Linked DNA regions of Homo sapiens: regions 1 and 3 are each linked to region 2. The links come from fine-mapping of genetic effects on gene expression. Tissue or cell type: whole blood. Region 2 holds a variant in brackets; each other region holds the start of a gene. All regions are shown on one strand. Distances are from middle to middle.

Region 1 (2,790 bases), 55 kb after region 2:
CCGGGGACAGTGAAGGCTTGGGGCGCCTCTGCAGAGTCGCCAGCGCGGTGGGCGCAGCCGGATGCCTCTGGGAGAAGAGCGCAGCGCCCGAGGGTCCCCCGGCCTACGAAGGCTAAGCCGGGGTCTCGGATTCGATGTGGGCGCGTCGCGTGACGCCCGGCGAGGGGCGGCCCGGAGGCTTCCCGGCGGCGGCGCGCGCAGGGTCTCGGGCCCGGGTCGGTCCCGGGCGCGGCGCGGGCGGCGGGCGCCTCCTGGCGGGCGCGGACGGAGCGCGGCGCCTTTAAGCGGGGGCGGGCGGGGCGCGGGCAGAGTCGCTGTCGCCGCGGCCGCCGGGGCGGAGCCAGCGCGGATCGGGTCCCGGACGCCCGAGCGCCCCGCCCCCGCGCGGGCGATGCCCAGCGGCGCGGCGGGCTGCGGGGCCCGGCGGGGCGCGCAGAGGAGCGGGCCGCGGCGCTGAGGCGGCGGAGCGTGGCCCCGCCATGGGCTTCCTGCACCAGCTGCAGCTGCTGCTCTGGAAGAACGTGACGCTCAAACGCCGGAGCCCGGTGAGCCCACCCCACGCGCCCGCCCTCAGCCCGAGGCCGCGCGCACCGCGGCCAGAGGCGCGCTCCCCGCGCGCACGTGCGGACGGCCGGGCGCGCGCAGACCCCGGCGGGCGCTGGGGGCGGCGCGGGCCCGAGCCCCCTCCCCGCCGGGCCCTGCCCTCGCCTGCCGGCGCTGCGGCCTCCGGGGAGGTGGCTCGGTCGTGTCCAGTCCGGTCCCGCGTCCGCTGACATCGCGGTGCTCGGCTGAGTCACGGCACCCGCGCCCTCTGCAGCGCGCTCGCTGGGGCCGCTGTGGGCGGGGGGCAAGCGGCGCTCAGGACTCTGGCTCGAGGGAGGCCCTGGTTCCCAGGACAGAAGGCAGGCCTGGGGGGCTCCATTCAGCTGCGAGGCTCCATGGTCCTTGGGCCCAGCCTCCCTGGGGTCCCGGAGGAGACCCTGTCCCTTCCCTCCGTCCACCCCTCCCCTGCCCTTGGGCCGCGGCCTGCCATAGAGGTTGGTCCCAGGCATCTCTCCGCCTCCCCTCCTGGCACATCCGTGACCCTTGCTCATGCTCTCGCCACTGGGAATGTCCTTGTGCCAGCCTTGGCCAGCCTGAATCTCTGCACCCATTTGTCCTTTGGGGTCAGTTCTCCCCGAGCCTGATCCACTCTGTTGCCTCCTGGTCCCCCCACCTGCTCTGGGGGCTGGGTCTACTGTTTGGAGCTGTGAACCCCGGCTTTCCCAGCACTGCCTGGGCAGCCAGTGGACCTGAGGGTGCAGGACACATGGCTGTCAGGGACAGAAGTCCTTCGTGGAGCGAGGGGCTTGGGGATATGGGTGTCCTGCCATACCCCCAGCTGGCCAGCTTGGCTCCAGCCTGGGAAGGGAAGGGACACCTCCCAGGCCACAGGCCTGGACCAGCTTAGGTTTCTGAAGGCCCTTGGGATTGTCCAGGCCAGGGCTCAGAGCAGGTGGGGGCCTAAGGCAGACATCCTCTTGCCCAGCCAGGGCCCGGGCGGGACCCCTTGGGCTGCACCAGTCCGTGCCTGTTTATCTTTCAACATGCACTGCAGGAAACCCAGGCTGCAGTCAGCTGGGGTGGCCATCATCACCATGGCTGGCAGAATTCCCCTGGGCACCTGGCCTTGGCGGGGAGCCTGGGTTAGGTACATGCCCTGGCCAGGCACCTGGAGCTGGCTGAGTGGGGTCCCATGGATCAGGCCTGCAGCCCCTGGCATTGAGTCACTGGGGACAGCAGAGCAGGGCCAAGGGAACAGGGATGTGGCATGTGGCATGCATTAGTATTAGTCCCCGGGGGTGGTTGTCAGGAAGGTCCCCACTGGGCTTGGGAGCAGAGGCTGGAATGGTGGCCCCTGTTCCAGTGGGGACAATGCTCAGGGAAGGGAGTGTGGCCTATGAGGGCAGCTGGCAAGCAGGTGGGAGGTGTGCACTGTCCTGACCGCAAGAGTGACTCCCAGCTGCTGGTTTGGGCTGCCCCCCAGGACCTTTTTGGGTCCCCACCCTACAGGGCTCCCAGAGGCCCACTGGGCCACAGTGGAGGTCCTTAGCCCATGGCTGGAGCAGGTGGGGAACTGTTTCCCCCAGGGAGGCTGAGTCCTTGCCAGGCTTGTGATGTGGGGCTGGGGCTGGCTGGACACTGGGCACACTCCTGCTGGGTCCCCACTTTCCTGGGAAGGATCTTGGACATCAGAGCTGGACTCTTGGGGCCAAGCTTGGATGACAGAGGTTTGCCCTGTGTGCCATGCGCCCTGCTGGGGCAGGGGTGCACCCTGGGCAGAGCTCCACCCTGGGCAGAGCTCAGGGTCTGGAGGGTGGGTGCCAAGGACCTCTGTGCTGCTAGCAGGCTCCTCCAAGCTCTTTGCCTCAGTTTCCCTGTCTGTGAGTGTGGCCTATCTCCTCTTAGTTAGCTGGACTTGGGTCTACCCTTGGGCTACAGGCTGCTCTTGGTGCAGGGACAGGGTCACTGTCATGAAGTCACTGGGATGGCAGATGGCAGCGCCACCCTCGGGTCTCACCTGTTCTCCCCCCGACACAGTAGGCGGGAGCTACAGGGAGGGGTCATGCCCAGAGAAGGCATCTAGGCCTCCAGGCGATGTGAAGGCACTGGGCTGGTCTCGAGGGACGGAGGTTGGGCCACCTGGAGGCACCTGTGTGGGGCACCCAGGGCGTGCTAGACCTGTGCTGCCGCCTGTAACCAGATGCTGCTGTGGCGCCCGCCGCCTGCCAGCCAGGACTCTCCTCCTCC
Region 2 (2,662 bases):
TCACCAGGGGAAGAACCCTGGGGCAGCTGGCTTGTCCCAGCCATGCCTGAGTGCACCAAATATGGAGGCTGCGTCCTCACTCGGAGAGCCAGGCAGCCTGAGCACCAAGATCCGTCAGAAGCAGCAGGCAGCTGGGGTGAGGGGTGGTGCCTCTGACTCATGAAATCCCGGATTAGTCAGCAACCATCACAGAGGCCGCCGGCATTGATCCCACTGGTTCTTGGGGAAGCACAGAAAACTCAGCAGCCTAAACCGACCATGGAAGAGGCTGAGAGGCAGAGGCCTTGGGGATAGATGGGGAGAAGGCAGGAGTACCGGCCGCAGGCTCAGGTGTCCAGGCCAAGCTTCTCAGAGCCACCTGGATCATGGACATCAGGCTCTTTCTGTGGCCTTGCTGGGCATCCAGGGTGTGTGGGCTGGGATGCCCCAGCCTTGCCCCCATTACTGGTTCGTCTGCTAAGGAAGAGGGGGCAGCCCTCGAGTGGGTGGAATTGTCCCCCTCATTCTGGTTCTGCATCTGTAGGCTGCAGAAGCACATCCTGTGTAGCTTATGCAGCTTCTAGTGCTCGGTGGGGTGTGGTGGATCCACAAGGCGGGCTCCCAAAGGGACATGCCCTCCTGTTCTCCCCAGATGACACCACACCTCCCTTGGGCCCCAACCCGAAGCCTCCTCTCAGCCCCATTCTCCCAGGTCCCAAGTCCCTCTGCCTCTTGACTAGACCCCACAGCCAGGAATGGAGCCACAGAGCCCCCAGCAGGCTGTCGCCACTTGTGTCCAGAGGCGACAGGAGAGGCCCTGCCCTCGTGGAGTCTACCAGCATGTTTCATTCTGTGTTCTGCAGGCTGGAAGCATGGGGCAGGCTGCTTTCCCACCCAGAGCTCAGGCTGGGCTGTAGCCCCCAGCTCCAGGACGCCGGGGCTGGCAGGTCTGGGGGGAGTCGGGACTTCCAGGATGCCGGGGCTGGCAGGTCTCGGGGGAGTCTGGGGACAGTCTGGGCGGGTCAGGACTCCTGCAGCTGCGGCTCCCTGGCCTGGTCTTCATCCAGGATGAGCGGGGACTGGAACTCCCGGCCTTGCAGGTACACTTCTAAACCCTGGAGACGAGCAGGGGACAATGGCCAAGTACCCACCTTTTGGCGGGTCACAGCCCCTCTGGCCACACCAAGAGCCACAGTCCCCAGGTGCGATCCCAGGTCTGCCTGGAGTCAGGGAGGGGTGGGGACAGAAAGGCTTCCAGGGCCAGGAGCAGACACACACTGCAAGGCCACCCAAGACCACACTCAAGACCCTAGGCC[A/C]GCAGGGGACCCTCCTGTCACGCACAGGTCTGACCTGACCAGAGAAAGGGGCAAGGGCAGCCGAGGTCAGGGAGGTAGCAGAGGCCGGTGTCCTCCCTCCGCAAGGCCCCCACCAAGGCCTGACTGGCCCCACACTGGGCTCAGACCTGGGCTGTCTCATCCCCATGCCCTCCCAGGACCTGCAAAGGCCTCTGGATGCCTCACCCCACCCCAACCCATATCTTGGAAAGTCTTCTGCAAATTTAAACCACCGACCCCATTGGTTAACCGAGGTAGAGCTGTGCCGTCTCCACCCGAGCAGCCACCTCTCCCCAGATGGTATTCCAAACCTGACACCAGAAAAGCCCCAGATAGGGATGGGCAGCTCTCACCTCTCCAGAGTAAGACACCAAGGGCGATATCTCACAGATGGCCGGAGGGTCTCCATTTGGGGGCAAGCTAGGGAAAGTCCACTTGTCAATATCTCCTTGCAGCACCTGCCCAGAGCCCTCCCCCAGCACCCCCAGTCCCGATAGGAGACTGAGCTCTACACACCTGGCTCCCCACAGCTCCTGTCTCAGCAAGCTCATCTTCCTCTGGACACCCCAAACCCTGAGCACACATCCCACTGCCAAGTGACAGGACCTGATTTGGGGTAGAAAGCACCCCCACAGGCCTCCCACGCAGAGCCTAGGCAGCTAGATTTAGGGGTGGCCCTAGAAAATCAGGGAGATGGAAGCCAAACGTCCTTTTCTTTCCCAGCCCTGAAATCAAACTGTCCTGCTACTTTCTAAATTCATGCCCGGGGCTCAGTTTCAAAGCCTGTGAATAAATGGGAACAACGTTGGTTGGGTGATGGATCCCCTAAAAGCCCTGACCTGACTGACCAAAGTTGCACACACACCCCACAAATGTATACAAATAAGAAAAATAAAAATAAAAAAATAGCCGGGTGAGGTGGCTCACGCCTGTAATCCCAGCACTTTGCGAGGCCGAGGCGGGCAGATCACAGGTCAGGAGTTTGAGACCATCCTGGCTAACACGGTGAAACCCTGTCTCTACTAAAAAAAAAAAAAAATACAAAAAAATGAGCCGGGCGTGGTGGCGGGCGCCTGTAGTCCCAGCTACTCAGGAGGCTGAGGCAGGAGAATGGCGGAAACCGGGGGAGGGTGGAGCTTGCAGCGAGCCGAGATCCCACCACTGCACTACAGCCTGGGCGACAGAGCGAGACTCCATCTCAAAAAAGTAAATAAAAATAAAAATAAATAAATAAAAGCCAAATCTAAGTATGCCTTTGTAAACAAACCAAAACCTTGTGGATAAGTTGGGGAGGGAGTTGGGGAGCCCCTGCCTCCCTCAGTGCACTGAGCACAACTTGAAGGGTCGGG
Region 3 (2,790 bases), 51 kb after region 2:
GATAGTGCAAGACTCCCTCTCAAAAAACAAACAAACAAACAAACAAACAAACCAAGCCTGACCTGCATTGAGATCTCCAGGACGTCTGGGTCTGGCCACGCCTGGGACCACACAAGGTCCCGTGCAGCAGAGTGGCAACGTGGTTGGGTGAAGAGGCTGATGGGGCCTCCCACTGTGGCTGAGAGTGGGGTGTTGGTTGGCTGGGGCTCAGGGTGACCCCGCAGGGCCATCCCAGCCTGGCTGGCACCCAACGTGGGCTGGTGTAGAAGAAGGAACCTGGCCTCCAGGCTCCAGGCCCTGGCTTAGAGGGAGCGGGGAGTCTGGACTTCAGGCTGGATCCCTTCCTCTTCCTGGAGCGGGTGCTGGCCCCCAACCCGCTTGCGTCAGGGACAAAAGGACTCCTTCCCTTTCCAGCCTGGAAAGCCCCTCTGCTGCAGGCTGGAGGAAGGGACCCTGGGCCCAGCCTATAGTCAGCGGTGTCTATGGGCATGGATCTGGACGGGGAAAAGGACAAAGCAGCCTCCATCCACAGTTCATTCCGGGACCAGGCCCTTGCAGGCACGCGCTGGGCTCCTGTGGGAAGACACTAAGGGCCCCAGGACAGACCTCCTCTCCGGGCATCTGGGTTCCTAGATGGCAGAGGTGGCAGAGTGGGGTGGGATGGCCCAATTGGGAGCTTTAGCTTCCGGCAAAGAGCTGAGCACAGTACATCTTCAATGTGTAAGATTCTCCTGGGAGACCAGGGCCCAGCTGGTGGTGAGCTGGGGGAAGTGGGTGATACTGCCGTGGGAGGAGCCACCTGGCCCTCTGGGGAAGTGCACTCGCTGTCTGCAGCGCCCAGGCCTGGGTAGCTGGGTGGGGGCTGGGGGGCCATCTGTGCTCAGGGTGCCTGCACCTGGGCCTTCTCTGCCCTGGGCCAAGCCTGCCCGAGCCTCTCTGTCCTCTGCCTGCCCAGCTGGACATCTCTGGGCCTCTCTGGAGACCAGTGGGGTGGGCTGTGGGGGCGTCATATTGCCCTGGCTTGGCATCCCTCTTGTGGCTGTACCCCTCCCAGCAGCCCCAGGACTAGCAAGTCCCCGAGATGGGGGTGGGGACAGTGGTTGATGCCAAAGGTTGTGGGGGCAGGGGCGGGGCAGGAGCAGGAAGGTCCCCTGAGTTCCCTCACCTTGGGCAGAGATAAAAGGAGCACAGTTCCAGGCGGGGCTGAGCTAGGGCGTAGCTGTGATTTCAGGGGCACCTCTGGCGGCTGCCGTGATTTGAGAATCTCGGGTCTCTTGGCTGACTGATCCTGGGAGACTGTGGATGAATAATGCTGGTGAGTGTCTGGCCCTCGGGGAGGCCCAAGCTGGGGACAGCTAGGCAACCTGGGAGGGGAGGACGGGGGTGGCGCTGAGTGGGGCATGTCGGTGTCCCTGAGCCCATGGGAGGGGAGGACGGGGGTGGCGCTGAGTGGGGCATGTGGGTGTCCCTGAGCCCATGGGAGGGGAGGACGGGGTTGGCGCTGAGTGGGGCGTGTGGATGTCCCTGAGCCCAAGTGACAGAGCCTCCCCTCCCTCGTGCTGCTGCAGGGCACGGCCCCACCCGGAGGCTGCGAGGCTTGGGGGTCCTGGCCGGGGTGGCTCTGCTCGCTGCCCTCTGGCTCCTGTGGCTGCTGGGGTCAGCCCCTCGGGGTACCCCGGCACCCCAGCCCACGATCACCATCCTTGTCTGGCACTGGCCCTTCACTGACCAGCCCCCAGAGCTGCCCAGCGACACCTGCACCCGCTACGGCATCGCCCGCTGCCACCTGAGTGCCAACCGAAGCCTGCTGGCCAGCGCCGACGCCGTGGTCTTCCACCACCGCGAGCTGCAGACCCGGCGGTCCCACCTGCCCCTGGCCCAGCGGCCGCGAGGGCAGCCCTGGGTGTGGGCCTCCATGGAGTCTCCTAGCCACACCCACGGCCTCAGCCACCTCCGAGGCATCTTCAACTGGGTGCTGAGCTACCGGCGCGACTCGGACATCTTTGTGCCCTATGGCCGCCTGGAGCCCCACTGGGGGCCCTCGCCACCGCTGCCAGCCAAGAGCAGGGTGGCCGCCTGGGTGGTCAGCAACTTCCAGGAGCGGCAGCTGCGTGCCAGGCTGTACCGGCAGCTGGCGCCTCATCTGCGGGTGGATGTCTTTGGCCGTGCCAATGGACGGCCACTGTGCGCCAGCTGCCTGGTGCCCACCGTGGCCCAGTACCGCTTCTACCTGTCCTTTGAGAACTCTCAGCACCGCGACTACATTACGGAGAAATTCTGGCGCAACGCACTGGTGGCTGGCACTGTGCCAGTGGTGCTGGGGCCCCCACGGGCCACCTATGAGGCCTTCGTGCCGGCTGACGCCTTCGTGCATGTGGATGACTTTGGCTCAGCCCGAGAGCTGGCGGCTTTCCTCACTGGCATGAATGAGAGCCGATACCAACGCTTCTTTGCCTGGCGTGACAGGCTCCGCGTGCGACTGTTCACCGACTGGCGGGAACGTTTCTGTGCCATCTGTGACCGCTACCCACACCTACCCCGCAGCCAAGTCTATGAGGACCTTGAGGGTTGGTTTCAGGCCTGAGATCCGCTGGCCGGGGGAGGTGGGTGTGGGTGGAAGGGCTGGGTGTCGAAATCAAACCACCAGGCATCCGGCCCTTACCGGCAAGCAGCGGGCTAACGGGAGGCTGGGCACAGAGGTCAGGAAGCAGGGGTGGGGGGTGCAGGTGGGCACTGGAGCATGCAGAGGAGGTGAGAGTGGGAGGGAGGTAACGGGTGCCTGCTGCGGCA

What was found. PIP is the estimated chance that this variant, and not a neighbour inherited with it, causes the effect.
Region 1: LINC02908 starts here. The variant in region 2 is fine-mapped to the expression of LINC02908 in whole blood (TOPMed, PIP above 0.99).
Region 3: FUT7 starts here. The variant in region 2 is fine-mapped to the expression of FUT7 in whole blood (TOPMed, PIP above 0.99).

The regions. Positions count from the first base shown.
Region 1 is chr9:137,025,830-137,028,619 of GRCh38, reverse strand. It overlaps LINC02908 (long intergenic non-protein coding RNA 2908), which reads right to left and starts at 1,156. Exons shown (of 3, transcript NR_171031.1): 1 at 709-1,156. It overlaps ABCA2 (ATP binding cassette subfamily A member 2), which reads left to right and starts at 383. Exons shown (of 49, transcript NM_001606.5): 1 at 383-545. The coding sequence starts at 480. RefSeq lists an enhancer at 1-242 and a silencer at 126-305.
Region 2 is chr9:137,081,069-137,083,730 of GRCh38, reverse strand. It overlaps UAP1L1 (UDP-N-acetylglucosamine pyrophosphorylase 1 like 1), which reads right to left. Exons shown (of 9, transcript NM_207309.3): 8 at 1,667-1,733; 9 at 1-1,094. The coding sequence ends at 1,002. Among named protein-coding and RNA genes, the nearest start is that of MAN1B1-DT, 4.4 kb to the left of the region's middle. RefSeq lists a silencer at 1-212 and an enhancer at 1-319. The variant A/C (reference allele first, on the strand shown) is at 1,296.
Region 3 is chr9:137,030,504-137,033,293 of GRCh38, reverse strand. It overlaps FUT7 (fucosyltransferase 7), which reads left to right and starts at 1,206. Exons shown (of 2, transcript NM_004479.4): 1 at 1,206-1,315; 2 at 1,569-2,790. The coding sequence starts at 1,303. The coding sequence ends at 2,584. It overlaps LINC02908 (long intergenic non-protein coding RNA 2908), which reads right to left. Exons shown (of 3, transcript NR_171031.1): 2 at 63-1,296. RefSeq lists an enhancer at 1,062-1,171.